Linked DNA regions of Homo sapiens. The protein of the gene in region 1 purifies or fractionates together with the protein of each later gene. This does not show direct contact. Each region holds a gene or a part of one and is shown in the gene's direction. Other genes may lie near its edges.

What was found.
Region 2: the proteins of CTBP1 (region 1) and BCORL1 purify together in Homo sapiens (affinity purification with mass spectrometry; 4 studies listed by BioGRID and IntAct, with this or other methods). This does not show direct contact.
Region 3: the proteins of CTBP1 (region 1) and WDCP purify together in Homo sapiens (affinity purification with mass spectrometry; 5 studies listed by BioGRID and IntAct, with this or other methods). This does not show direct contact.
Region 4: the proteins of CTBP1 (region 1) and ZEB2 purify together in Homo sapiens (affinity purification with mass spectrometry; 8 studies listed by BioGRID and IntAct, with this or other methods). This does not show direct contact.

The regions. Positions count from the first base shown.
Region 1 is NC_000004.12:1,239,125-1,246,150, reverse strand, and holds part of CTBP1 (C-terminal-binding protein 1), read left to right. Parts: intron 1-4,631; 5' UTR 4,632-4,819; coding exon 4,820-4,826; intron 4,827-7,026. UniProt on the Homo sapiens protein: Corepressor targeting diverse transcription regulators such as GLIS2 or BCL6. Has dehydrogenase activity. Involved in controlling the equilibrium between tubular and stacked structures in the Golgi complex.
Region 2 is NC_000023.11:129,985,617-129,992,642, forward strand, and holds part of BCORL1 (BCL-6 corepressor-like protein 1), read left to right. Parts: intron 1-7,026. UniProt on the Homo sapiens protein: Transcriptional corepressor. May specifically inhibit gene expression when recruited to promoter regions by sequence-specific DNA-binding proteins such as BCL6.
Region 3 is NC_000002.12:24,037,387-24,044,412, reverse strand, and holds part of WDCP (WD repeat and coiled-coil-containing protein), read left to right. Parts: intron 1-4,900; 5' UTR 4,901-4,918; coding exon 4,919-6,736; intron 6,737-7,026.
Region 4 is NC_000002.12:144,384,113-144,391,138, reverse strand, and holds part of ZEB2 (zinc finger E-box-binding homeobox 2), read left to right. Parts: intron 1-1,110; coding exon 1,111-1,688; 3' UTR 1,689-7,026. UniProt on the Homo sapiens protein: Transcriptional inhibitor that binds to DNA sequence 5'-CACCT-3' in different promoters. Represses transcription of E-cadherin. Represses expression of MEOX2.

The DNA.
Region 1 (7,026 bases):
CCGCACTGGGTCGTGGTAACCCACAAGGTGCCACCTGCGTCACTGACCATCGTTTCCAGAAGCCCCTCCGGCCACACATTCCATGTGGTATCTCCCACAAGGAAATGTTCGTTTTTTTCCCTGTGAAGCCAGAAATTTCTTGGTGGCTCTTTGCCGAGCCAAACGTTAACCTTGAGTTGTCTCTCTGGGCGGCCCCAGGTGGTACCAGTTCTCACGGGTGTTGAAGGAGAGTGAGGATGGCCCTGAGGGAAGCCCAGTTGGTTTGGTTGGGGAGGCGTTGGGGCTATGGCCCTGAGAGAGGTGTGGGCGGTGTTGGGACCAGGCCCCTTCTGCACCCTCCCCTGGCACCGCCGTTAACTCTCCAGGCCTGGTGTGGCCCAAGCCACCCTGCCTACCCGTGCTACCCTACCCACACGTGCCACCCTGACCTGCTTGTGCCATCCTGCCCGCCCGTGCCACCCTGCCCACCCGTGCCACCCTGCCCTGCCGCCCGTGTCACCCTGCCCGTCCATGCCACTCTGCTATGCCGCCCGTGTCACCCTGCCCTCCCGTGCCACTCTTCCCTGCCGCCCGTGTCACCGTGCCCTCCTGTGCCACCCTGACCTGCCGCCCGTCTGTGGTGTGGGGGCTCCTGGGCTGCCCTGTCTGCGTGGCTGGCAGGAGCCTCAGAGGCATCCGAGGCTGTCTCTCCAGTGGTGTCGTGTGTAGACTGTGTTGGGAAGGGGAGGAAGGTGTAGCCCTGATACCCCACATGTGGTAGGAGCCAGGAAGGTGGCGTTCTGGGGGTTCCTGGAGCTCACAGGTTGTGTGCATGTGCTCGCTGAACAAACAGGGAAACGTGCGGCTCCACGGATGTCCTGGAGAGGAATCTTGCTGGCAAATCCATGCCTTTGATCACAGCCCCTGCGCTGTGTCCTCTGAGCTGTGATGCGGCCCTGCAGGCCCCGTGGAGTGCGGTGGCTCCCTGGCTCACAGGGATGCTGCCGTCCAAGGTGCCGTATCGGCTCGTGGATGACTTGGGCAGTGTCTGTCTGGGGTGCTGTCGTCGGAGGAGCTGTTTCAACCTGTGGGTGACGGGCCTTGTCTGTCTGGGGGAGGTTCTCTTGGCCCCGTGCTCTCAGCCCAGTGGCTCCATGCTGCTGTGCGGCTCCCTCTTGGGGGCCTGCCTTCTCTGCCATTGCAGGGCAGGGCCTCAGTTTTCTCTGGGCGGCAGGTGGCTGTATCTCAGGACTGGAAGGCTCCGGGTCAGGCTGTGCACAGCCTTCGTTCATGTCAGCCCCTGGCTGGGCAGCACCGCCAGGCCCTAGTCTTTGGGCCTCCAGGCCTGGACAGCCAGAGGGGGCATCTCACCAATGCCCAGATGGCTGCCGGGGACTCACGGCAGGGCAGCTTTGTCACGAGAGGGCCACTCGAGCCCGGAGTAATCAGGGCTTATGGGGACAGGGCAGGGTGAGGGCCGCTGAGACCACCCAGCCTTAGGGTGCCCTTCTGGTGGTCGGGGAGCCCTTCCTGGGCAGCGGCTTTAGGGGCTGCTGTGGGGAGGGGGAAGAAGATGGGGTTGGTGAGGAGGAGCTTTTGGGACACTGTCCTGGTGGAGGTCGTGAGGGAGGGGAGCGGACCGGTTGGCCCAGCAGGGCTGGCCAGTGGAGGGACGTGGAGGGTTGGTAGCTGCCGAGCCTGGGTCTGAGCAGGCGGGGATGAGGACCAGGTGCTGAGGCTGGGGAAGGAACAGGGGTAGCTGCTTGGTCCTGGCGCATCTTGGTGCCCCCTGGGACTTCCTGGAACACCCCCCCCCCAGTGCCCAGAGACCCACTGTGGCTGTCTGGATCGGGGCAGGTCCCAGCCCATGGTGACCCCCAGTGTGCCGGGGCAACCCGGTCCCTCTCCAGACCAGAATGGACCGATGCCCAGCACACACGTGGATCGGGGCGGAGTGGGCAGGCGTGGCCAACAGGAGGGAGGATCCGGCAAGCAGATGGTGATGTGCATCCAGAGACAGGGCGTTGACATGTGGCCAGGAGGCTCTGGGGTCATCGGGCCGCCACCGTGCAGCCCCCCGGGACTTGATGCCTCCAGAGAACCTGGGGGCTGCTGCCCCTCACCTCACCCCCATTTACTTTAAAATCAGTTTTTGTTTTAGAGCAGTCTTAGATTTACAGGAAAATAGGAAGCACAAGCTTCCATGTGCTCTACACTCACTTCCCTCGTGGGTCCCTTGAGTGCTTTCTTACAACATGAGGTTAAGCGTCTGCAGGGTGAGAAGCTGGAGACTGTCCTCGTGTCGCTGGGCTGAGAGCCGTGTGCGGCTGTGAGTTTTTGATGAGGAAAAGCAGTGTGGGTCCTGGATTTGGACAGCACAGGCCCCTCTGGGAGCCGTGTGCCTTCACCTCGGAGTGTGTGGGCAAGGTACAGAGCTGGAGCCCTTGACCCTGACCGGCCAGCCAGGAAGGCCGTAGGAGGCCAGCTCCCTGGCGTGAGGTGCGCAGGGCCTCTGGCATTGCCCTAGGTGAGGGCTCCAGGACTCGGACACTGGCTCTCAGTGGGGCAGGTGTGGCCCGGCAGGGGGCGCTTTGTGGGTGCACAGTGGCCCCAGGGTGGTGCAGATGGTGGGCAGACCTACCCCAGGGCTGTTTCTGAGACAGAGGTCCCTGGAGGAGAACCAGGTGCTGGGCCTCAGGTGTCTGTCCTGAACTGGAGCAGCCTTGGAACAAGGAACCACAGGAAGTCCCTGTGGCATGGGGTGCAGCCCCTCAGGTCTGGCAGGGCTAGCCCAGGGAGTGCAGGGCCCCAGGAGCCCTGCCACAGGTTCCTCAGCTCGGGAGCTCACGGCCTCCTCACTGCAGGGTCCTTTCAGGAGGGCCAGGGTGGCCTTCACACATCTGCTTCTTCCTCAGAGACACAGGTGTGGGCACGTACTGGCCAGTATAGATAAGCATTGAGCAGCATTGATGGGTATCGATGATCCTCCAGGAGCAGCGGCTGGTGCCATGCTGCTGTGGGCAGTATTGAGTATTGGCCGGTCTTGACGAGCAGCAGCCGGTACTGGGCCACCGTGGGTAGCATTGATGAGTATTGACTGGTATCAATGAGTATCAGCCGGTATCAATGAGTATTGGCCCGTATCAATGAGTTTGGCCAGTATTGATGAGTATTGGCTGGCATTGATGAGTATCGGTTGGCGTTGATGAGTATCGGCTGGCATTGATGAGTATCGGCTGGCGTTGATGAGTATCGGCTGGCATTGATGAGTTTGGCTGGGCGTGGGTGGCGCGGTGCCTTGCCCCCTGGCCAGGCTGGCTCGTGGGTGAAATGTGACATTTAGGCGGTTTTCTCCTGTCCTTTTAGTTTGTTTTTATGTGGTATCCGGGTACCATGGGGAGATCTGGCATTCAGGGCAGGAGGCTGCAGCGCAGGTCATGGGGGCTCAGGCGCAGGTGATGGGGATCCCGCTCCACAGTGTTGCTCTTGGGCCCTCCGTCAGGGAGTCCCACACAGCACCTGCCATGAGGAGTGGTGTTGGGGACCCTGGATGGGAGGTGCGTGCGTGGGGCTGCACCCCAGCCCCTGTGATGGTGTCTCTGGAAGCTGGAGATGGTCGGCATGTATGCTTGAATCCTGCAGAGGGAGTTGAGGGTTGGAGATTTGTCTGCGAGGCCTCTGCGCAGGGGCGGCCTCACAGCACACTACCAGGGTCTTAGGCTTGGCTGAGTGGCCCCTTCTGGCCTGGCAGGCAGTCGTCTCAGCCCACGCCTGCCATGCTGCTGGGCTGGTGGTGGCCGGCTCCTGTCCTGGTCAGCCTGATGTCAGCTGCACGTTGGGGTCAGCCTCGGTGCTGTGTCTTCATGCCAGAGCAGGGGCCAGGTGTGGGCAGCTCAGTGACACCCTCCCGAGGGCTGGGCGATCGTGTGCACTCTCAAGCCTCTACTGGAAGGCTTGGCCCTCTCAGGGGCCCCCTGCCCCTGTGCATTCAGCCACTGGGGTTCGTGCCCTCAGCTTCCCGCCAGGCCCTGGCCGTAGCGGTCAGGAAGAGCTGAGCAGTTTTTTTGGGAGAATTGAGGGAGCGTCGCCAGGATGCACTGAGGGTCGGAGGTGGAGCCGGCGCGGCTCAGTGCAGGCAGTGCCAGGCTGGATGCTGGAAAGCCAGCAGCACCTCTCCCGGTGGCTCCTGGGAAGTTCCACGTCCTTGCCTGGTCACAGAGGCCCGGGAATCAGTGACATGAGATAGAAGCTTCCAGAACAGGAGGCAGAGCCTTTCCGCAGTTTCCCTGCCCACAGCACACACCCTGTGCCCTCCGTCCCCTGGTTCTTGGACACTGGGGACATCTGGATGCGGCTAGAGCCTGTGGGGGTGGCCGCAGCCCTGGGGGACTGTTCCCAGGAGTAGGCCTCGGGGCCACAGGGGCGCGGCCTCGGGCCTGGCACTGCAACCTCAGGGTGAGCGCCCTTCGTGTGTGCGGCAGGAGCCGGGGCCCCTGGCTGTCAGCAGGCCCCCGAGTCCAGGTAGGTCCCAGACAGCAGTCCCGGGTGTGGCAGATGCAGTGAGGTCCACTTCTGAGGCGTTCCCTGGAGTCTGTGAGTTCTGGTCGGACCTTCGATGGCATTTTAATGTGTCTCTTGTGTTTGATTTTTAGTAAGACTTTGACCCCGACGCAGGCTTCAGTGATTGCCGCGGATCAGAAGCCTGAGCACTTTGGCTCGAGACAATTAAGGACGTGGGATGAGGCTCCGAGACAGGACGCGGTTCTGCCTGGGGATCCTGAAGATAAAAAGCTTTGAAAAGTCGAATTCATGGTCGTGGAAGCTGAGCCCATATTAAGAGATGTCAGGTTGGTAGGGGTTCCTGGCGTCGGCGGCAGAGTGAAGCCGGCCGGTCTCTTTGCGACCGTGTGGAGGAGGCACTGCCTCGGATCAAGTCGAGGGACCTGGGCTGCATGGGCGTCGGGCCGGACTGCTGCCACCTGACCCCCGGTGTGCTCTGGGCGAGGTCAGGTGCCCCTCGAGGGAGGGCTTCCTGCACACCTGGTGGCAGAGCACAGCTGTGGTCAGGCCTGTCCGTGGCATCTGCTGTCTGTTTCTGTCGGAAAGTGTCTGAGAGGCACGGAGGGCCTCCATGTGGAGGCCGCCAGCACGAGGGTGGAGCCCCACACGGAACCCTGGAAATCTCAGGTGTCCACCCGGCTGGCCCAGGAGCAGGGCCGTGGCCCCTGTGGAGCTGTTCCTTGTGGTTGGTCTGCGCTCTCTGGCCCGGAAGTGCGTGCAGTCGGAAACAGCCTTGGGCTTGGGGGATGCTGCAAAGCCTGCTTCAGCACAGGCCGTGTGACTGTGAAGCCTCCTGGGTGTGTCCCCAAGCCTGCAAGGGTGGGCTGTCCGGGGAACCCTGGCACGGTGGTCAGGGGCAGCTCATGGGTGATGTGAGGAGGCACCTTGGGTGCCTGAGCCTGATGGGGCTTGGTGTCTCCACCTGCTCCCCCCTCCCCACCGTTCAGCTGAGGGACCCGGTTCCCACTCACCCAGCACCCGGGAGTCCCCCACGCGGTTCCGACGAGGGACCCGGTTCCCACTCACCCAGCACCCGGGAGTCCCCCACGCGGTTCCGACGAGGGACCCGGTTCCCACTCACCCAGCACCCGGGAGTCCCCCACGCGGTTCCGACGAGGGACCCGGTTCCCACTCACCCAGCACCCGGGAGTCCCCCACGCGGTTCCGACGAGGGACCCGGTTCCCACTCACCCAGCACCCGGGAGTCCCCCACGCGGTTCCGACGAGGGACCCGGTTCCCACTCACCCAGCACCCGGGAGTCCCCCACGCGGTTCCGACGAGGGACCCGGTTCCCACTCACCCAGCACCCGGGAGTCCCCCCAGGCGGTTCCGACGAGGGACCCGGTCCCACTCACCCAGCACCCGGGAGTGCCCCACACGGTTCCGACGAGGGACCCGGTTCCCACTCACCCAGCACCCGGGAGTCCCCCACGCGGTTCTGACGAGGGACCCGGTTCCCACTCACCCAGCACCCAGGAGTCCCCCCAGGCGGTTCTGACGCAGCCGAGCGGTCTGCAGTGATCCCGTGTGTCCATGCCTTCCTCATCAGAAGTGAAATCCAAGGATACTGAGAGCGGATGTCTATCCACTCACTCAGAAACAGCAACATAAACCTTTCTGCTCATGAGAAGTCATCACCACCACACACAGCGGGGAGGGAGGCCACGTGCAGAGGGAGGCCATGTACAGTGTCACTGGGCGGCCTGTCTATGGTGCTCGTGGGCAGCTCCCGTCCAGAGGGAATGAAGGAACAGGCGAACCAGGACGCGGTTTTGACCGTGCAGACCTCACGTTTGGGATCTGGTTTCCTATCTTGAAGGAAAGTGGGTGGAATGGCCAGTGGCTCCTCCGAGGACGCCAGGGCGCGAGGACCTCACGGGAGGGGCATGGGCCCAGCCGTACTGGGAGCCCTCGGCTTTGGGGTGGTCAGTGGAGACCCATGCCCCGTCCCCTGCAGGCGTGTGCTGCAGGCCCACTGCACCCCTGGGCTGTCCACCAGAGCATTTCTTTTCTCTGCCATGGGTTCCAGGAGGCACTTCCCTGCTTCCTGGATACTGGCAGCTCGGTGGCCTCTGCTCACCTGCAGGCGGATGGGGCAGCGGATGGGGCGGGAGACTGGGCCGAGCGTGCTTGTGGCCGCGGCCACTGGAGAGCCTGCTGGGTCACTCTGCTCCTTGGTTCTGTCGTGCGCCTCCCCTCCTGCTGGCCGAACGGTCCTGGGTACTGCTTGGTCTCCTGTGGCCGGTCTTTGGAGGAGGAGGGGAGGGACCGGCTGGGCCCTGGCCCCAGCTCCGCCTCTGCCCAGCTGCCGTGGGGCTGACAGTGGCCCCACCTGGTGCTCCCTGCCTGGCACGGGGCGGTCGGGCGGTGCCTGGAAGCTGCCATGCTTCTGTGACGCCTCAGAGCCCTTATTTCTCCAGTTGGCCCCGATGAGGCTTAGTTGCGTCATACGCGAAAGGAATGGGTGTTAATGAGCTTTAATCATC
Region 2 (7,026 bases), on another chromosome or scaffold:
AGTCAAGTTAAGAGAATCTGAAGGTTGATAGTAGAGTTTAGGGATGTGGCCATCTTGACTAAGTCATGAGGATGTTGTTAGGCGGACATCTTTTGACAGGGCAACTTAGGCAACTGCCCTTGGGGCAGATGTGAGGGATGAAAGGTACAGGCCTTGGGGCACAGATCCTGACTAAAATTGACCTTAAGAGGGCTGATCCTGATACCAGCTTTGCAACAAGGGTGGTTAGGTTTCTTTTCTTTTCTTTTTTTTTTTTAGATGGAGTCTCAGTCGCCCAGGCTGGAGTGCAGTGCTACAATCTCAGCTCACTGTAACCTCCGCCTCCTGGGTTCCGGTGATTCTCCTGCCTTACCCTCCAGAGTAGCTGGGACTGCAGGTGCCCGCCACCACGCCTGGCTAATTTTTTGTATTTTTAGTAGAGACAGGGTTTCGCCATGTTGGCCAGGCTGGTCTTGAACTCCTGACCTCAGGTGATCCATCCGGCCCAGTTTATTTTTGTCCTGGCTGTAAGTCATTGATGAGGAAGGAGAGGGGTTTCACCTCTCCCTTGTCTGAGTTCAGGAGGATTTTTAAAAAATTTTTTTAGAATAGGCCAATAAGGAAGGGACAGCAAATTTTTAGAAAAGGCCAATAAGGAAGGGACAGCAAAACAAATCGTTGGCATAGGGCAGAGAAAAGCTAAGGCCCTGGCAAGCTCTGCTGCTGGAGTCTGCATAGGGCAGAGTGGAGGGAGTTCCACAAGACATGATGGCTGCACCAAAAACACTCATGTGGGTCTGGCTATTTTGATTTGCCAGGAAAGCGTAGATAAAGAGGGAGGATCCCTTTCTCAGTGACATAGACATTCTTGGGAAGAAAAGAGGGGTCCTCCACAGGGCTCTGCTTCATTTATGATGCAGTTCATGAAATAGAAAAAAATGGGCCGGGTGCAGTGGCTCACTCCTGTAACCCCAGCAGTTTGGGAGGCCAAGGCAGGCAGATCACTTGAGGTCAGGAGTTCAAGACCAGCCTGGCCAACATGGTGAAACCCCGTTTCTACTAAAATCACAAAAATTAGCCAGGTGTGGTGGGGCGTGCCTGTAATCCTAGCTACTTGGGAGGTGGAGGCACAAGAATTGCTTGAACCTGGGAGGTGGAGGTTGCAGTGTGCCAAGATCGTGCCACTGCACTCCAGCCTGGGCAACAGAGCGAGAGTCCATCTCAAAAACAAAAACAAAAAAACAAAAAAACAAAAAAAGAAAAAAGAAAAAAATGTTCAGTACAGGGAGTGGAGGATCTCAGGACACTATTGGTTGGATTATGGGTTGTAGGGAAGGGCTTCTTTGAGAGAAACAGAATTATGGGAAAAAAGGACTTGGACACTAGAGGGAAGGAAGGCAAGAAAGAGAAGTCAGGAAGAGGGCTGGTTGAGCAATGAAAGGAAAAGAAAGGTGATCATCACTGGTCCCATGTAAGGGCCAGCTAAGGAAAAAGTCAAACCTTGAAATCTCTAGGACAATGTTTTCCAAAGTAAACTTTGAAGAACTCTTAAAGCTCTTTACAATTTCATGCTGGAATCACTAAGGTTGGGGCAAGAGAGAAGGAATATATGGGGTAAAAGTAGGGTGGGGGAGAAACTGGCATTTAGAGAGAAATACAAGCATATTTATCCATAAGGAAATAGGGAACTTAGAGATTATATACAGGTTAAAATGCAGAATGTGAGAGAAAAAGAGAGGAATTAAGAGCCAAAGGAGGAAGATATTTACTCAGATATCTTTTGGAGCCGGTGTTAGGGAGCGGAAAATCTTGCCTTTGATAGCCACTGCCCTGAGAGGGCCCAGGAAGCAGAGGTTAGCTGGGATCCAGGCCTTACACATCTAAACATTAATTAGAAAATCTAGACTAAAGTAAGGATACTGAATGGGGGGAGGGATTCACTGTCCTAAATAGAGTGGCCTTGAAAGAAGGAAAAAGTGGGAATCCACCAGTGTTTCCAGTCTGCAGGTGGGAAGGATCCTAGGTATCAGGAGATGAGTGATGGAAATTCCAGGGTGAAACTGGATAAAAAACTGAGTGACATGAGAGCCTGTGGGCCAGAATTGGAGGGTGGGGTTAGGGGCATGGAAGAGAGGCTCTAATCAGGGCTTGGACTGGAGGCCACATGGAGTAATTCATTGATTCTGGGCTGAGCTAAGCTTGGGATGAAATAGAACAGCCAAAGAGAGTAGAGAGCTGTTCTTCAGGGCCAATCAGCATCAGAATCAGAGTGAAGAAATTCGAGGTCAAGTTTGGGTGGGAAAGTGAACACCGGAGTGGAACAGAGAGGGTGCTGGAGAAAGTGACACAATTGTTGGGGTAGAATAGGAAAAGGTAGAAGCCACTGATGATTACATAACCCAGAGGGAAGACCCTAGGCCTTTGAGTTTTCAAAGAGAAGGGAAGTTTCTTAATGCTGGAGTTTGAATTAGGTGTGAGTCCATGGTTGCCAGAGTGTTTAGTGTCAGGATGGCCAAAGAGGGAGGTAATATCTACTTTTCGGCCACTAGGATGCTAGTACAGTATTTGATATAATTTTACATATGAACTAGGCTTTATTAATGCCCATTTTTGAATGGTTATCCTTAAAATAATGTAGAAATGGTTCTTTTTCTAAATTAAATCATTCCCTTTCCCACTGTTCATAACTTAAAAGCAATCTTTTATGATGAGAACTTTCTTTGGCGAACTGAAGTTTCATTCTGGTCAAGAGTAAAATTTAACTCTGTGTTTCTATCCCCGTAATTCAAATATGCTGTTCTAGTTTTCTTTTTTATTCTAAGCAGAAGTGACCTTTTCCCCATAAAACATAAAAAAGGATCTTTTTTTTAAAAAAAAAAAGTAACTGAGTAACTGCAGGCTGCATGTCAAGGTCATATTTTCCCTGGTCAATGAATTATGATGAATTTGAATACAGCTGATATATTATTTGTAAAATGTGGTAATTTTCAGATTTACTCATCACAGTATGTGAGGCAGGATACCTCTTCATTTGTATTTTAAGAAAACCTTAAGCTGAAGGTCCGTGAGGAATCCAGAGTACCAAGGAGCAGGGAAAGCTTTGTGTTTTGGGCTTCTTTACCGTGGGTCTGCTGAGAAACAAAATTTGGTTACCTCATTACTAAGGTATGCCTAGAAATCATAGTGTTAGTGCCATTTAAGGGTACTGTTGAGTTTTGTTATAATGCTGATGTCCAGGGACAAGGAGAACAAGCAGATTTTTGCTTTTCCAAGTTTTGTGGAGAAGTGCACCGTATATGACTATGATCGCAGAGGTGAGTTGATGCACTGTATACCTGAATCCATGAGATGATTATCTTCTGATAATGAGGCTTTACTCAGTTTAACTTGGTTGTACCACACCCCAGTTAGTATAGTACAGTGGTTCTCAAACTTGAGCTCCTCAGAATTGCCTGGGGGGGCTTTGGAGACCGACAACCTCAGGTTAGAGTGCTTGCTGTTCTACTTCTTAGCTATGTGGCAGGAGGCAAGTCACTTAACTTACTTTCGTTCTTTTTTTTGACAGAGTCTCACTCTGTCACCCAGGCTGGAGTGTAGTGGCATGATCTCGGCTCACTGCAAGCTCCGCTGCCCGGGTTCAAGCCATTCTCCTGCCTCAGCCTCGCAAGTAGCTGGGACTACAGGCGCCCGCCACCATGCCCGGCTAATTTTTTTTTTTTTTTTTTTTTTTTTAGTAGAGACGGGGTTTCACCGTGTTAGCCAGGATGGTCTCAATCTCCTGAGCTTGTGATCTGCCCATCTTGGCCTCCCAAAGTGCTGGGATTACAGGCGTGAGCCACCGCACCCGTCTTTTTTTTTTTTTTTTTTTTTTTTTTTTTTTTTTTTTAACCGGAGACAGTCTAGCTCTGTTGCCCAGGCTGGAGTACAGTGGTGTGATCTCGGCTCACTGCAACCTCCGTCTCCTGGGTTCAAGCTATTCTCCCACCTCAGCCTCCTGAGTAGCTGGGATTAAACGTGCCCACCACCATGCCTGGCTAACTTCTGTATTTTTAGTAGAGACGGGGTTTCACCATGTTGACCAGGCTGGTCTTGAACTCCTGACCTGAAGTGATCTGCCCACCTCAACCTCCCAACATGTTGGGATTACAGGCATGAGCCACCGTGCCAGGTCTTCACTTAACTCTCTTTGTTTCTTTTTTTTTTGTTTTTAGACAGAGTCTTGCTCTGTCACCCAGGCTGAAGTGCAGTGGTGCTATCTTGGCTCACTGCAACCTCCACCTCCCGGCTTCAAGCGATTCTCGTGCCTCAGCCTCTCGAGTAGCTGGGATTACAAGCGCCCAGCACCACGTCCAGCTAATTTTTGTATTTTTAGTAGAGATGGGGTTTTGCCATGTTGGCCAGGCTGGTCTCGAACTCCTGACCTCAGGTGATCCTTCCACCTCAGCCTCCCAAAGTGCTGGGATTACAGGCATGGGCCACCATGCCCGGCCCACTTAACTTTGTTGAGCCTCAGTTTTCTCATCTATACAATGGAGATGATAATACCAATTTCACAGGGCTGTGAGGATTACACAAAATCATCCCAGGCCCATAGTAGGTGCTCAATAAATGGGACCTATTATTTTATATATATATTTTTTTCTTTTTCTTTTTTGAGATGGAGTCTCGCTCTTTTGCCCAGGCTGGAGTGCAGTGGCGCTATCTCGGCTCACTGCAAGCTCTGCCTCCTGGATTCACGCCATCCTCCTGCCTCAGCCTCCTGAGTAGCTGGGACTACAGGCGCCCACCACCGTGCCCGGCTAATTTTTTGTATTTTTAGTAGAGACGGGGTTTCACTGTGTTAGCCAGGATGGTCTCAATCTCCTCACCTCGTGATCCGCCCGCCTTGGCCTCCCAAAGTGCTGGGATTACAGGCATGAGCCACTGTGCCCGGCCCTATTATTATATTATTATCTAATTTTTCTTGTTCAATTGTATCCTATTATGTTATAGTAAACATGGTGGCAGCATGAAAACTATCAACAGCTTCTCAGTGGTCCCCTTATATCTTGATTCTCTGTCCTCTTTCTTCATATTCCTGTTGTATTAGTACACATTTGGCATTTACAACATGCTAGGAAGAAAGCTTGACTCATCACTGCATCTACCTTTGAGGTGGAAGTGGCGGCTTCTTTAACAGCTATGCTGTAACACTGCTCAATAGTTCAGGACAGGAACTGAGGAGTGTATATCCAGTTGAAACTCTAGGGAACATTTCGGGCCATGGGTGACATTTTTAAAAACCATTGCTTTCTGAAAAGGGCTGTTGTGTTTATTTAATTAATTAATTTATTTGTTTATTTATTGATTGATTTATTTGAAACCGAGCCTCACTCTGTTGCCCAGGTTAGAGTGCAGTGGCGTGATCTCGGCTTACTGCAACCTCCGCCTCCTGGGTTCAAGCGATTCTTCTGCCTCAGCCTCCCGTGTAGCTGGGACTATAGGTGTGAGCCACCATGCCTGGCTAATTTTTGTATTTATATTATTTATTTATTTTTTGAGATAGAGTTTCGTTCTTGTTGCCCAGGCTGGAGTGCAGTGATGCAATCTTGGCTCACTGCAACCTCCTTCTCCTTGTTTCAAGTGATTCTCCTGCCTCAGCCTTCTGAGTAGCTGGGATTATAGGCACCCACCACCACGCCTGGCTGATTTTTGTATTTTTTCTAGTAGAGATGGGGTTTTGCCATGTTGGCCTGGCTGGTCTCGAACTCCTGACCTCAAGTGATCCGGCTGCCTTGGCCTCCCAAAGTGTTGGGATTACAGGTGTGAGCCACTGCGCCTAGTCTATTTATTTATTTTTGAGACAGGGTCTGGCTCTGTTGCCTCAGCCTCCTGAGTAGCTGGGACAGGCCACCATGCCCGGACAATTGTTTTTATTTTTATTTTTAGTAGAGGCAGGGTCTCCCTGTGTTGCCCAGGCTGTTCTTAAACTCCTGAGCTCCAGCATTCCTCCTGTCTTAACTTCCCAAAGTGCTGGGATTACAGGTGTGAGCCACTGTGCCCGGCAGAAAATATTCTTTTTTTTTTTTTTTTTTTTTTTTGAGACAGAGTCTTGCTCTGCTGCCCAGGCTGGAGTGCAGTGGTGCGATCTCGGCTCACTGCAACCTCCATCTCCCGGGTTCAAGCAATTCTCCTGCCTCAGCCTCCTGAGTAGCTGGGATTGCAGGCGCCCGCCACCATGCCCAGCTAATTTTTTTTTTTTTGTATTTTTAGTAGAGACGGGGTTTCACCATGTTGGTCAGGTTGGTCTCGAACCCCTGACCTCGTGATCCATCCACCTCGGCCTCCCAAAGTGCTGGGATTACAGGCGTGAGCCACCGTGCCTGGCGCTTTTTATTTTTATTTTTGTTTCTGAGATGGAGTCTTGCTCTATTGCCCACGCTGAAGTAGAGTGGTGCAAACTCAGCTCACTGCAGCTTCGACCTCCCGAGCTCAAGTGATCTTCCCACTTCATCCTCCCAAGTAGCTAGGACCACAGGCCCATACCACCAGGCACAGCTGATTTTTAAAATAATTTTTGGGCCAGGCACAGTCGTCACGCCTATAATCCCACCACTTTGGGAGGCCGAGGCTAGCAGATCACTTGAGCCTAGGAGTTCAAGACCAGCCTGGGCAATGTAGCGAGACCCTGTCTCTACAAAATAATACAAAAATTACCTGGGCTTGGTGGCGCCAGGTGTGGTGGCATGTGTCTATAGTCCCAGCTACTTGGGAAGCTGAGGTGGGAGGGCCACTTGAGCCCGGGAGTGCCGCTACAGTGAGCTGTGATTGTGCCAGTGCACTTCAGCCCAGGTGACAGAGTTGAGACCCAGTCTTAAAATAACAACAACAAACTCTTTGAGCTAATACTGTTTAATGAAAGCTGTATAGATACACCTTTGAATGAATAATATATATAAAATTAGTTGAACCCATAGCTGAGTCTGTTCTGTTGTGAGAAAATAGAAAGAATAACCTGATAATGGTCTCTCCAAATATTTGTGTTATGTAGTCCAGGAGACTTTTATA
Region 3 (7,026 bases), on another chromosome or scaffold:
CCCCTATCCCAGTTCCTTGGGAGGCTGAGGCACAAGAATCACTTGAACCCAGGAAGCAGAGGTTGCAGTGAGCCCAGATCATGCCACTGCACTCCAGCCTGGGTAACGGAGCAAGACTGTGCCCCCACGCCCCCCCCAAAAAAAAACCTCAGTAAACTTATGTTTGTTTTTCTCTTATTCCCAAATCCTTGTCTTGTGCTACCCTGGCCACACACACCCTCATTGACATTAGACAGAATTTGGTATCCTAAAATATATAAATCGACTTGGATGTAATTGGCCCATTAGGAATTTTCTCTGCCCATGAAAGTGTATCATGGCATTATTTATCAATAAAATTCTTTTTAAAGTACATAAGTAGATATTAGGGAGAAAACATTATTATCTTTCATAAGACCAGTGGGACAGAGATCACAGTTTTCTTCATTAGTAATGACTGGACTTTTTTCTCCGTTTAGCAAGCCGCTGCAGAACCACTGAATCTGACATCATATATAAAAGCATAATAGACCCTTTTTTTTTTTAAGTGAAAGATCCTAAGAGCAAGGACAAAGCTAGCAAGGAGATATGCGAAATAATTTACAGATAAGCAAATCACCAGGTTGGTAGAGAATACATTTCATTGGATTTAGAGTCTGAAGACAACTTCTCAAGTTCTGCCTTTGACACTTACTCAGTAAAACAAGGCTGAAAAATGTCATTTAGATTCAGTGACAGGGAAGCACTGGTGGCCTGGTGAGAGATGTTTTGGAGAAGAAATTGGAATGGAATTCATTTTAAGTATATTAAGAAGAGAGTGAGTGGTGAAAAATATGAGTACTGCCAGTTTACACAACTATTTGATAACTAATAAGGTTAAACATCACTTTATATATGTTTGTAGATTGTTGGGGGGTTTTTTGTTTTGTTTTGTTTTGTTTTAAGTAGAGACAGTATCTTGCTGTGTTGTCCAGGCTGATCTCTGGTCTCGAACTCCAGGGCTCAAGTGATCCTTCTGCCTTGGCCTCCTAAATTGTTGGGATTACAGGCATGAGCCACTGTGCCTGGCCAACAGTCATTTTGTTTAGTTTTGTTTTTGAGACCGAGTCTCACTCTGTTGTCCAGGCTACAGTGCAGTGGTGCCATCTTGGCTTACCGTAACATCTGCCTCCCAGGTTCAAGCAATTCTCGTGTCTCAGCCTCCCAAGTAGCTGGGATTACAGGAGTGTGCCATCACTCCTGGCTAATTTTTTTGTATTTTTAGTAGAGACGAGGTTTCGCCATGTTGGCCAGGCTGATCTCGAAATCCTGACCTCAGGTGATCCACCCGCCTTGGCCTGCCAAAGTGCTCGGATTAAAGGCATGAGCCACCTGGCCCAGTAATTTTTTTTTTTTTTTTTGAGACGGAGTTTCACTCTTTTTGCCCAGGCTGGAGTGTAATGGCATGATCTCAGCTCACTGCAACCTCCGCCTCCTGGGTTCAAGTGATTCTCCTGCCTCAGCCTCCTGAGTAGCTGGAATTACAGGCATGTGCCACCACGCCCAGCTAATTTTGTATTTTTAGTAGAGACGGGGTTTCTCCATGTTGGTCAGGCTGGTCTCGAACTCCTGATGGTCAGGTGATCTGCCCGCCTCGGCCTCCCAAAATGCTAGGATTACAGGCGTGAGCCGCCGCGCCTGGCTCTGGCCCAGTAATTGTTTTTATACTAAATTTTTTTTTTTTTGAGACAGAGTTTCACTCTTGTTGCCCAGGCTGGAGTGCCATGGCACGATCTCGGCTCACTGCAACCTCCACCTCCCGGGTTCAAGCGATTCTCCTGCCTCAGCCTCCTGAGTAGCTGGGATTACAGGCATGCGCCACCACAGCCAGCTAATTTTTTTTTTTTTTTTTTTTTTTTGAGACGGAGTATTGCTCTGTCACCCAGGCTGGAGTGCAGTGGTGCGATCTCGATTCACTGCAACCTCTGCCTCCAGGGTTCACGCCATTCTCCTGCCTCAGCCTTCCGAGTAGCTGGGACTACAGGCGCCCGCCAACACACCTGGCTAATTTTTGTATTTTTAGTAGAGACAGGGTTTCACCGTGTTAGCCAGGATGGTCTCGATCTCCTGACCTCGTGATCCGCCTGCCTCGGCCTCCCAAAGTGCTGGGATTACAGGCGTGAGCCACTGCGCCCGGCCAATTTTTTGTATTTTTAGTAGAGATGGGGTTTCTCCACGTTGGTCAGGCTGGTTTTGAGCTCCTGACCTCACGTGATCTGCCCTTCTCGGGCTCCCAAAGTGCTGGGATTACAGGCGTGAGCTGCCACACCCAGGCTTTATACTAAAATTAGTCTTTCTCAGTCTGTGTTTATTATTGCAACATTTTATTCTTATATCCATTATTATATATTTATGTATCCACTGATTGATAGTATTTCAAAATATAATTTTCCTGAGGCAGTTTTTCATTTTACATTAAATAGTATTTTTTATGTTTATATTTCAAAGTGAGTATTCAGGTATTACAGCTTATCCAAATAATGTCCTTATTCTCCCTACTGACTATATGTATCTTTTTTTTTTTTTTTTTTTTTTTGAGACAGAGTTTCACTTTTGTTGCCCAGGCTGGAGTGCAGTGGCGCCATCTGAGCTCACTGCAACCTCCGCCTCCCCTCCCAGGTTCAAGCAATTGTCCAGCCTCAGCCTCCCGAGTAGCTGGGATTACAGGCACCTGCCACCGAGCCCAGCTAATTTTTGTATTTTGAGTAGAGATGGGGTTTCACCATGTTGGCCAGGCTGGTCTCGAACTCCTGACCTCAGGTAATCTGCCTGCCTGGGCCTCCCAAAGTGCTGGGATTACACTTTGGGTGTAATGGGTGTAAGTGCTGGGTGGCTCATGCCTATGAGCCACCATGCCTGGCTACCCCATTTTTTGTTTAAAAGAAAAGCCATAACATGTAAAATCCTATATATCTTTGTGTCTTTCTTTAACATTTTCAGAGGCTAAACACCAAATTGTTAATGATGCTTTTATCAAGGCTTTGAAATGTTGGAAAGGAGGAGGAGCTAAAGGGGCTGGCACTGAGTAGGAGGGAACAGTTTTTTTTTTTTTTTGGAGATAGAGTTTTGCTCCTGTCGCCCAGGCTGAAGTGCAATGGTGCAATTTTGGCTCACTGTAATCTCTACCTCCTGGGTTCAAGTGATTCTCCTGCCTCAGCCTCCTGAGTAGCTGGGATTACAGGCATGCGCCACCATGCCCGGCTAATTTTTGTATTATTATTAGAAACAGGGTTACACCATGTTGGCCAGGCTGGTCTCAAACTCCTGACCTCAGGTGATCCACCCGCCTCAGCCTCCCAAAGTGCTGGGATTACAAGCATGAGCCACCGTGCCCAGCCTAAGCATGTACTTGTTTTTTGTTGTTGTTGTTTCTTTTTTGAGGTGGAGTTTCGCTGTTGTTACCCAGGCTGGAGTGCAATGGCACGATCTCAGCTCACTGTAGCCTCTGCCTCCCCAGTTCAAACGATTCTCCTGCCTCAGCCTTCTAAGTAGCTGGGAGTATAGGCATGCACCACCACACTTGGCTAATTTTGTATTTTTAGTAGAGATGGGGTTTCTGCATGTTGGTCAGGCTGGGATCGAACTCCCAACCTCAGGTGATCCTCCCGTCTCAGCCTCCCAAAGTACTGGGATTATAGGCGTGAGTCACCACGCCCAGCCCTAAGCATATGCTTCTTTAGTGATTCAAATGCCTGGGGGAAAAATATTCAGGGTGAAAAAATGAAGATAATACTTGCCTAACCTACTTTACATTATTTTAAAAGATTATTGTAAGATAAAATGCAATAGGGAATGTGAAAATGTTCTGAAAATTATTAAGTGCTGTTGAATAAGATGAAGTAGAAGTAGAAATAGAAACAGTGATTTTTGAGTGTCATTTCAATAGAGGGATAAAAGCCACTTTGGAAGGATTTGAAATAAGTGCTAATAAAGTCAGAGATGTGCATATCAGTTATTCATTGATTTGGCAGTGAAAGGACGAATAGAAATTAGATGATGGAGGAGACTTTTCTTAAATTTTTAATTGGAAAATTTTCTAACTTAAAAGTTGAAAGTACCATAAATACTAACATAGCCTCAATCTAGACTCTACAATTATTAACATTTTGCTACATTTGTTTTCTTTCTGTGTGTCTATAGAAAATTTGGGTTTTTTTTGTCAAACCATTTGAAAGCACATTGTAGGCATCATGACATTTTACCCCAAGTGCTTCAACATGCTTATTTAAATAATAAGGACCTTGTCCTGCATAACCACAATACCATGTTCACACTTAAGAAAATTAATAACTCTGGCCGGGCGCGGGAGCTCATGCCTATAATCCCAGCACTTTGGGAGGCTGAGGTGGGTGGATTGCCTGAGGTCAGGAGTTTGAGACCAGCCTGGCCAACATAGTGAAACCCCGTCTCTACTAAAAATAAAAAAAAAATTAGCTGGGCCTGGTGGCAGGCACCTGTAATCCCAGCTACTCTGGAGGCTGAGGCAGAAGAATCGCTTGAACCCAGGAGGCAGAGGTTGAAGTGCGCCGAGATTGTGCCATTGCACTTCAGCCTGAGCAACAAGAGTGAGACTCCGTCTCAAAAAAAAAAAGAAGAAAAATAATAACTCTACAATATTTTCTGATATCCATTCCATACTCAGATTTCCCCAGTTCTAAAAATCTTCATTAGGTAGAAGATTTTATTTCTTCAAGATCCAAAGTATATACATTGCATTTGCCTGATAGCTCAGTAGTCTCTTAATTTATAATACTCCCCCTGTCCTTTTGTCTCTCCACATTATTAACCTGGGAAGGGGCTAAGCCGTTGTCTTACCAAATGTCCTACATTCTAGATTTGTCTAGATTTCTCATGGTGTAACTTTCCTTCTTAATCATTTCAGGTAACCTTTATCAAAAGGATGGAGTTGGGAAAAGGAAAACTACTCAGGACTGGACTGAATGCGTTGCATCAAGCAGTGCATCCGATCCATGGCCTTGCCTGGACCGATGGGAATCAAGTTGTCCTAACTGATTTGCGGCTTCACAGTGGAGAGGTCAAGTTTGGGGACTCCAAAGTCATTGGACAGTTTGAATGTGTCTGTGGGTTGTCCTGGGCCCCACCTGTTGCAGATGATACACCTGTTCTACTCGCTGTCCAGCATGAGAAGCATGTCACTGTGTGGCAGCTGTGTCCCAGCCCTATGGAGTCAAGCAAATGGCTGACGTCTCAGACTTGTGAGATTAGAGGATCACTACCTATCCTTCCCCAGGGCTGTGTGTGGCACCCAAAATGTGCTATTCTGACTGTGTTGACTGCTCAGGATGTCTCCATTTTCCCTAATGTTCACTCTGATGATTCCCAGGTAAAGGCAGACATCAACACCCAGGGCCGCATTCACTGTGCATGTTGGACCCAGGATGGCCTGAGGCTGGTGGTGGCAGTAGGCAGCAGCCTGCATTCTTATATTTGGGACAGCGCTCAGAAGACTCTTCACAGGTGCTCCTCCTGCCTGGTGTTTGATGTGGACAGCCACGTCTGCTCCATCACAGCAACTGTGGACTCACAGGTTGCTATAGCTACTGAGCTTCCATTGGATAAGATCTGTGGCTTAAATGCATCTGAAACCTTTAATATCCCACCTAACAGTAAAGACATGACTCCGTATGCTTTACCAGTTATTGGTGAAGTACGCTCTATGGATAAAGAGGCAACTGATTCTGAAACAAATTCTGAAGTATCAGTTTCTTCTTCCTATTTAGAACCTCTGGATCTAACTCACATACATTTCAATCAACATAAGTCTGAGGGTAATTCTCTTATTTGTCTAAGAAAAAAGGACTACTTGACAGGAACTGGCCAAGATTCTTCACATTTGGTCCTTGTGACCTTTAAGAAGGCAGTTACCATGACGAGAAAAGTCACTATTCCAGGCATTCTGGTTCCTGATCTGATAGCATTTAATCTTAAAGCCCACGTAGTGGCAGTGGCTTCCAACACTTGTAATATAATTTTGATCTACTCTGTCATTCCATCTTCAGTCCCAAACATCCAGCAAATTCGATTAGAGAACACTGAAAGACCAAAAGGGATATGTTTCTTGACAGACCAACTATTACTAATTTTGGTAGGAAAACAAAAACTCACTGATACAACATTTCTTCCTTCTTCAAAGTCTGATCAGTATGCCATTAGCTTGATTGTTAGAGAAATAATGTTGGAAGAAGAACCTTCAATAACATCAGGTGAAAGCCAGACTACCTACTCTACTTTCAGTGCTCCGTTAAATAAAGCAAATAGAAAAAAGTTAATTGAAAGTCTTTCCCCAGATTTTTGTCACCAAAACAAAGGGCTGTTGCTGACAGTTAATACCAGTAGTCAGAATGGAAGGCCTGGAAGAACACTTATTAAAGAAATCCAGAGTCCTCTGTCTAGTATCTGTGATGGCTCCATAGCTCTAGATGCTGAGCCTGTTACCCAGCCAGCATCGCTGCCCAGACACAGCAGCACACCAGACCACACCAGCACACTGGAGCCTCCTCGTTTGCCTCAAAGAAAGAACTTACAAAGTGAAAAGGAAACTTATCAGCTGTCTAAGGAAGTGGAAATTTTATCTAGGAACCTGGTTGAAATGCAACGGTGTCTTTCTGAACTTACAAACCGTCTGCATAATGGGAAGAAATCCTCTTCAGTGTATCCACTCTCTCAAGATCTTCCTTATGTTCACATCATTTACCAGGTAAATTCTCCTTTGAGGAACTACCACTATACATAAAAGCTCCTGCAGCCGGTGAGTACTGCAAGAAACGTATTGATGAGGAAGATGGTGCTCTAACTGAGCTTCACTAAGCTGGGCATGTTATGTTACAGGCAAGTTGGTACACCTTTGCAGGTTGGTTGGTTTTTAGCCTGCCAACCAGATAGGCGCACATATCAGTCTGCATCATGATTTTATCAGGTGCATGACGTGGAAAAATAAATGTCTGCACTAATTCGGGCAATTTATATTTAGAAAAAAAATCATGTTAT
Region 4 (7,026 bases), on another chromosome or scaffold:
AGAATGGGTCCCTAAACTTATAACATGACACTTAGCAAACGAAAATGGGATTGGATCTACTTTGTTGGGTTTTAATTTAATTTGCTGAAATGCAAGTTTGTATTAGGAAATAAAGCATACAACTTCATATATGTTACAGTGATCCATGGCACTCTACATGACACATTTCTGACTTTAACTCTGGAGCATCAGGCTGATAATTTTTTTTTATCAGTTCTATTTTGGAAATAAACTTTCAAGTATGGCAGCTATGGAAGGTGTTGAAGGCATTCCAGTGCTATTTGTGGCCTGGAATCAACCAGATGTGTTTAGGCTTGGCACTGGCTTTAAGTTCCAAACACTGGTTAGAAACTGCCTGGAATGCCAAAGGAAATACAGCATTCCCTAGCTGAAGAGTATTTTAACACTCAACAAGTGGCTGACATCTTATGGAAAACTTTAGAGGGAAAACACTATTTGGAATCAGTTCAGCCTCCATGATATACACCCTCCTAATTTGTATTTTCTAATGGTTTCTTCTCTGATTTTTATTCTTAGACTCCTATGACTGATAAGACAGTCTTGACATCCTCTTTCCTCTGTTTCTTCCACTCCCTCCTAACTTGGCAGTTTGCTCCCATTTAAGACCTAAGATCCCCTTTCAAAGCAACTATCTCATGATATAACAAGCAGAGGATATACATGCCAATGCCAGCGATGATGCCATCTTTATCACTTTTGTACAAGTCTTTGTTTTAAAAATGTAAGGAAGAGAATTACCTGATGAAAACATGTGCTAGATCACTAGAAATGTCTTGTTGAATAGAACATTTTTCCAAGTTTTAAAATGAGACAATTAGCAATGGAAAGCTTCCTGTCTGAGAATTTTCCTCCAGCAGCTTTCTAAGTTCTTCTTGTTTATTAACTACATTGCATCAGCAAGCATTAGAAAACCAAATTGTGGGATGGAAATGCATCTTCCTAACTCTCCATCGATTAGACCGGGGTGTGTTGATCTTTCAGGCATAAGTACACACGCTTATGCCTGAGTCTGGACTCGCGTACAGAATTAGTGGAAAGAGACTTCATGCAAAGACACTAATCACCCTGTCATCTTGTTCTTTCTCCCAGGAAAAAGACCACATCAGTGTCAGATTTGTAAGAAAGCGTTTAAACACAAGCACCACCTTATCGAGCACTCAAGGCTTCACTCGGGCGAGAAGCCCTATCAGTGTGATAAATGTGGCAAGCGCTTCTCACACTCGGGCTCGTACTCGCAGCACATGAATCACAGGTATTCCTACTGCAAGCGGGAGGCGGAGGAGCGGGAAGCGGCGGAGCGCGAGGCGCGCGAGAAAGGGCACTTGGAACCCACCGAGCTGCTGATGAACCGGGCTTACTTGCAGAGCATTACCCCTCAGGGGTACTCTGACTCGGAGGAGAGGGAGAGTATGCCGAGGGATGGCGAGAGCGAGAAGGAGCACGAGAAAGAAGGCGAGGATGGCTACGGGAAGCTGGGCAGACAGGATGGCGACGAGGAGTTCGAGGAGGAAGAGGAAGAAAGTGAAAATAAAAGTATGGATACGGATCCCGAAACGATACGAGATGAAGAAGAGACTGGAGATCACTCCATGGACGATAGTTCGGAGGATGGGAAAATGGAAACCAAATCAGACCACGAGGAAGACAATATGGAAGATGGCATGTAATAAACTACTGCATTTTAAGCTTCCTATTTTTTTTTCCAGTAGTATTGTTACCTGCTTGAAAACACTGCTGTGTTAAGCTGTTCATGCACGTGCCTGACGCTTCCAGGAAGCTGTAGAGAGGGACAGAAGGGGCGGTTCAGCCAAGACAGATGTAGACGGAGTTGGAGCTGGGTATTGTTAAAAACTGCATTATGCAAAAATTTTGTACAGTGTTAAGGCCTAAAAACTGTGTGGTTCAGAGACTAATTCCTGTGTTTAATAGCATTTATACTTTAAGCACAACTAGAAAATTGTAAGAATTGCACTCTACTTATGTATCACTACAAACTTTAAAAAACTATGTCTAATTTATATTAATACATTTTAAAAAGGTGCCCGCACTACCATACATCAGTATTTTTATTATTATTATTGTTATTCCTTTTTAATTTAATGTGCTCGCACTACAATGCATCAGTATTATGATTCCTCTGTACTTTCCTTTCGCTATTCATCAATTTCCCATTTTTTTTTTCAGCTTAAGTAACCACACAATTTTAGGCCTCAATTTTTTTTTTTTTCTGTGAAGGAACTTGAAGTGATGCATGTGTGAATTTAAGATACCGAAGTCTTAAAGTGACCTGGACGTGAAGGAAAAAGTAAGATGAGAAATAAAGAAAGCCTTTGTAAGGTGGTTTTAAAAGCCTTATATGCAAACCTTTTAATCTGTGTTTCTGCAAGTGCCATCCTTGTACAGTGTTAAGAGGGTAACATGGGTTACCTTTGCACCAGCTTCAGTGTTAAGCTCACCCTGTTCTTTGAAGCACCCATGTCAGTATTAGAAGAATAGGCAGCAGTTCCTTAGTTTACATATGTTTGTGCAATTATTTTCTGTACTTTTTTGTTCATTAATTTTGTCAGTATTACACCAAACTGTTTTTGCAACAAAAAAATTTTTTTTGCATTCATTTAATTTTAGGTCAAATAACATTTTATTTATGTGGCTCATTTTATATTTCCTAATTTTATTTATTTCATACTGTAGTGTACAGTATTATAGTTCTTCAATATATAGATATATTTTAGTAAAAAAGGAACATGACGTTGATCATTTGGGCAAATTTTACGTAAAGAGAAGAGCATTTATTGTGTTTTGGAACATTAATTGTGAGATGGGATTTTTCAATTTTATTATTTTATTTTTGTTTTTTTCCAATTACTGGAAATTCCAAATTTGGGAACTTTTGATACGATCTTGTGAAAACACTGTATTTTCGACTGAAAATTCCACTTTCTTCATCTTGTTTTTTAGCTAAAAAGAGGGACTGTTAAATACAATGTATGATACCATGACAAAAATCTTTCCTGAATTGTCTTTGTAAAAGTATTATTGAATTTTCAATTTGTAATTTCTTTTGAAAATGACCATGCTCGAATAAAAATGTAGCCAAACTAAGAATGTAGTTAATGAGTTCTGTACTTTTAGAGAGTTTTCCTTCAATGACCATTAACATGTAACATGCTTTATGCTTATAATAATGCTAATTATGTTTTTTTCATATAATTTTAGTTTAGCAATAATTTTGACTGGTACCAATAACTGTTTTTTAAAATTCCATACCTATGTACAGCAATTTTACAGCTTTTCTCAACTGATCCTGATTCCAGATTGTGTATTTTTATGTGAGGTTATATTATTCAAATTTAGTCTATTTACTTTACAGACATTTCTACTTTTGCATTACGAGTATTTAGAGATTATGTGTTAAAAATTCACTTCTCTGTCCAAGGGGTCTTTGTGATTTATTCAAAAAAAAGTCTAATTTCAAAAAGACAGCTATTATTCAGTGTTATTTATAATATGTAACCTTTTTTAAAGGATTGGGATAGTTTATCTCACTTTTTGAAATGCAGACAGTAGTTTACCGTTTATCTGAAACTAGAAGGCGTGGGTGGGAGAGGAAAAGCTAAAAGCAAATGCTAACAAAAATAACCGTGATTTTCTAAGACAGTTTTTCAGTTTTTACAAGATGACCCTAATATTCAGAATATGAATGTATTCGTAGGTTTTACATAATGACTTTTATCAAGAAACTAGATTCTGCTTCTTAAATCTAATTGCCAAGTGAAGAATAACAGAAAAAACAGATTACCTTATCAAATTTACAGCTCTTGAATATACAGAACTATAATATAGTAGCTGTCCATGTATTTTTTCTACTTTAGAATCAAAGAAGAAAAGCATCATTTTGCTATTAAATTTGCTAAAATTTTGAGTATGATATTTCCAGTTGGCAAGAACAACATATTTATATTTATTCCTTAGCCATAATACCACTTTCCTAAATTTCACAAAAGTCATTCTTTGCAACTTGAAACTCAATAGAAAGTGTGTATGTGTGTGTGTGTATATATATATATATATACACACACACACATACACAGAAAGGATGTAATGAAGATACAGTAATAGTTGAGCAGACCTTTTTAGAAAAACATGTTTTTAGCTCTATCTTCAAACTTTCTGGCAGAGGGGGTGGGGGGGGCAGGGGGAGGAGTGGCATCAAAATGCTATGCCTCCTGTTATCCACAGCCTAGAGTTTTTATATTTGGAAAGTTTAGAAAATTCTATCCTCGTTTCTCCTTCTTTGAATGGCACAAATAAATACACTACATAAATTTTTCTGGTTTGAAAGGCTCTAGGCGATAACTTTATTAATTCAACCTGAAAATATCAAGCCATTAAATTTTGTCCGGGTAGAATAAATCCCTGTGGCCTCTTTTAAAGCAATGTAGGTCTCTGTTGCCCATGGGGCATATCTGTGTCCCAATCCACAAGAGATAGGACCAACAAACAATGAATGTGCAACCTAACTCTTTCTCCTTGGAAAGAAGAAAGTGTGCACGAAGTAGAGGAGGGTGGGCAGACCCTGCCTTGCCCCTCCTGTTACCCCCTTCTCTGTCATTTGTTCCTAACTCCATTTCATAGGCAGGCTCAGAATACCTGAGTCTGAAAATATCAGGATAACACTTGTGAATTGTGACAATCACTACAATGTCCCATATCTGAGGAGTTTTTTTTAATGCTATTTATCCGCTGGACACGATTGCACATTAGGGCTGCATAATCCTCTAACTCTAGGGAAAAATAAAAACTTTTGATTTGTCTTAAGATTCTTCTCCAAGGTCGCAAACAAGAAATTCCCCTCCACAACCAAGAGATGTGCATTTTAGTAACATCAGATGTGTTCTTCTGTTTTATCAACTACTTACTCTTCCCACACGCTTAGTTCTAAATCTAACCTTTCCCCCCTCGAATAGGGGGCAGGGGAGGATGAGGAAACACTGGAACAACTGAACACCCCTGCCCATTTTCTCCAAGAGCCTTTTGTATTCTAGCATATCTGTGCAATCTTTTCTTTTTTCTTCACATGACACTGTAAGCTTAGGCCTGAAATAACTGGGAAGAGAGATGCGTATCAGAATTTCTCCGCAAGAGCTAAACAAAACATACATCTTCCTTAGCATGAATTGGACTGGGGGCGGAGTGGGAGGGCTTGGAGGAAAGGGGAAAGAAGGGACTATATTTGAATAAATATGAATAAATGTATTAGATACTTTTCACAATCAGATAACTTTTAAAAAGGTCATTTTTTATCTTTCTAATAATGTAAGCCTTAATAAAAGCAAATCTTAGTCACAAATTTGAGGAGACTGCCCAATAATAAGTTTACATGTATTTGAACTGAAAAATTGTTAACCATGCTTTTGCTCCAAGATGTGTGAGGCCATTCAGGGGCTGTAGGGCCCTGGATATACACACAAACAAGTGTGTGTATATCTGGAGCCCCACACATTGTAATAAACACAGCTGCATTTATTTGACTATGTGATCCCATGTACATGTAAAAACATTCAAACAAACACACTCAGCGGATTTATTTATTGTGCAATGGGGCAATTATTCAAATAAACATGCTCAATGCAATTATTTGAATCTCACATTGCATGTTCATCAATCATAGCACTAAAAAAAGAGGGGGAAAAAACACCAAAGAATTCACATGGGGAAAAAATATATATATGAAAACCACCTTATTATAGATTTTATAGGGCAGCTGAGGTTATGGCTCCCTTCTTAACTGTAACTCAACTATTCTGTATTCAATGACATTTGTTTCTAATGATTAATTGGTTCACTCACTTGATCATATAATAGCAAACTTTATAAACCTGTATTGTGTAGAGATGTGAAATCTCTATATTTCAAGAGCAGAAGAGTTCTTTCTAGACACCTTACATCAAGGGACACTGGTCCAATTATTATCGCTTATATAAGCACTCCTATAAATTCTGAAAAATTTTATACATGCAACAAAACATTCCTACATTTGAAGACATTAAGAAAAATCACAGGTGACTCATCTGATCATTCTATATATTAATAAATATTATGACATATATGTGAACACATCACAAATCATATTGGTGTACCAAGAGGCAATTTATGCCTCTCTTAAGTATGTACTGACATAACCTAATATACTAAAATGGGAAGGGGCTTTTAGTCACTGAAATATGCATCGTGTAACAAAGATGAAGAAAATACATGGCTTGTGCCCATCATAAAAAAAGATTCAGACTGAAGGCTTAGCTTTGGTTTTTTCAATTAAATTGTTAAACTGTGCACAGTGATTTTTTTTTAGAACTTGAGACATTTGTGATGTTGGCTGTTTAAATCTTTGTTACCTTCGCTGTGAATTGAAATTGTACATATTTAGTAAATCATGCAGACAAAACAAACTTTTTAGACAATATTTTTATTGGAGAGTTTTCTTTTCCTGTATCCATGTTAAAAAAAAAAAAGACCTCCTTTCCCAAAATAAAAATGTCAATACTAAATTTAAAGAAGTATAAAGGAATGATTGCTTCCTTTAGAGCAAAATATTTAAATAAACATGGAGATAATTGGCAACATGTTCTTTTTGGGCTAGTAGGCTGTGTCCAATTTTTTGGGTCTGATGTTTCAGAGGGCCTCTGTTTCAGGGTTGAAGATGATATATTAATCTCGGAATTAAACAAATGCTATTAAATAACAGAAATAAATCCTTCAGTCTTCATTTGTATCTGAAATGTGGAATTAGTCAGAGAAATGGCACCGAGATAATATGATGCTGAATATGCCACAAGCTAAAACTTTCTCTATTAAACGAGTCGCCTACTACCTATAATCTAGCATGACATGTTAAAATGCTCCAAAATACTGAAAATAGAAAATGAACACTACTGTTCCGATTTGGTCTTGAGATTAATATGACAAAGATTCTAATAATTTTAGTCAAAGAAAATGATGAGTAAA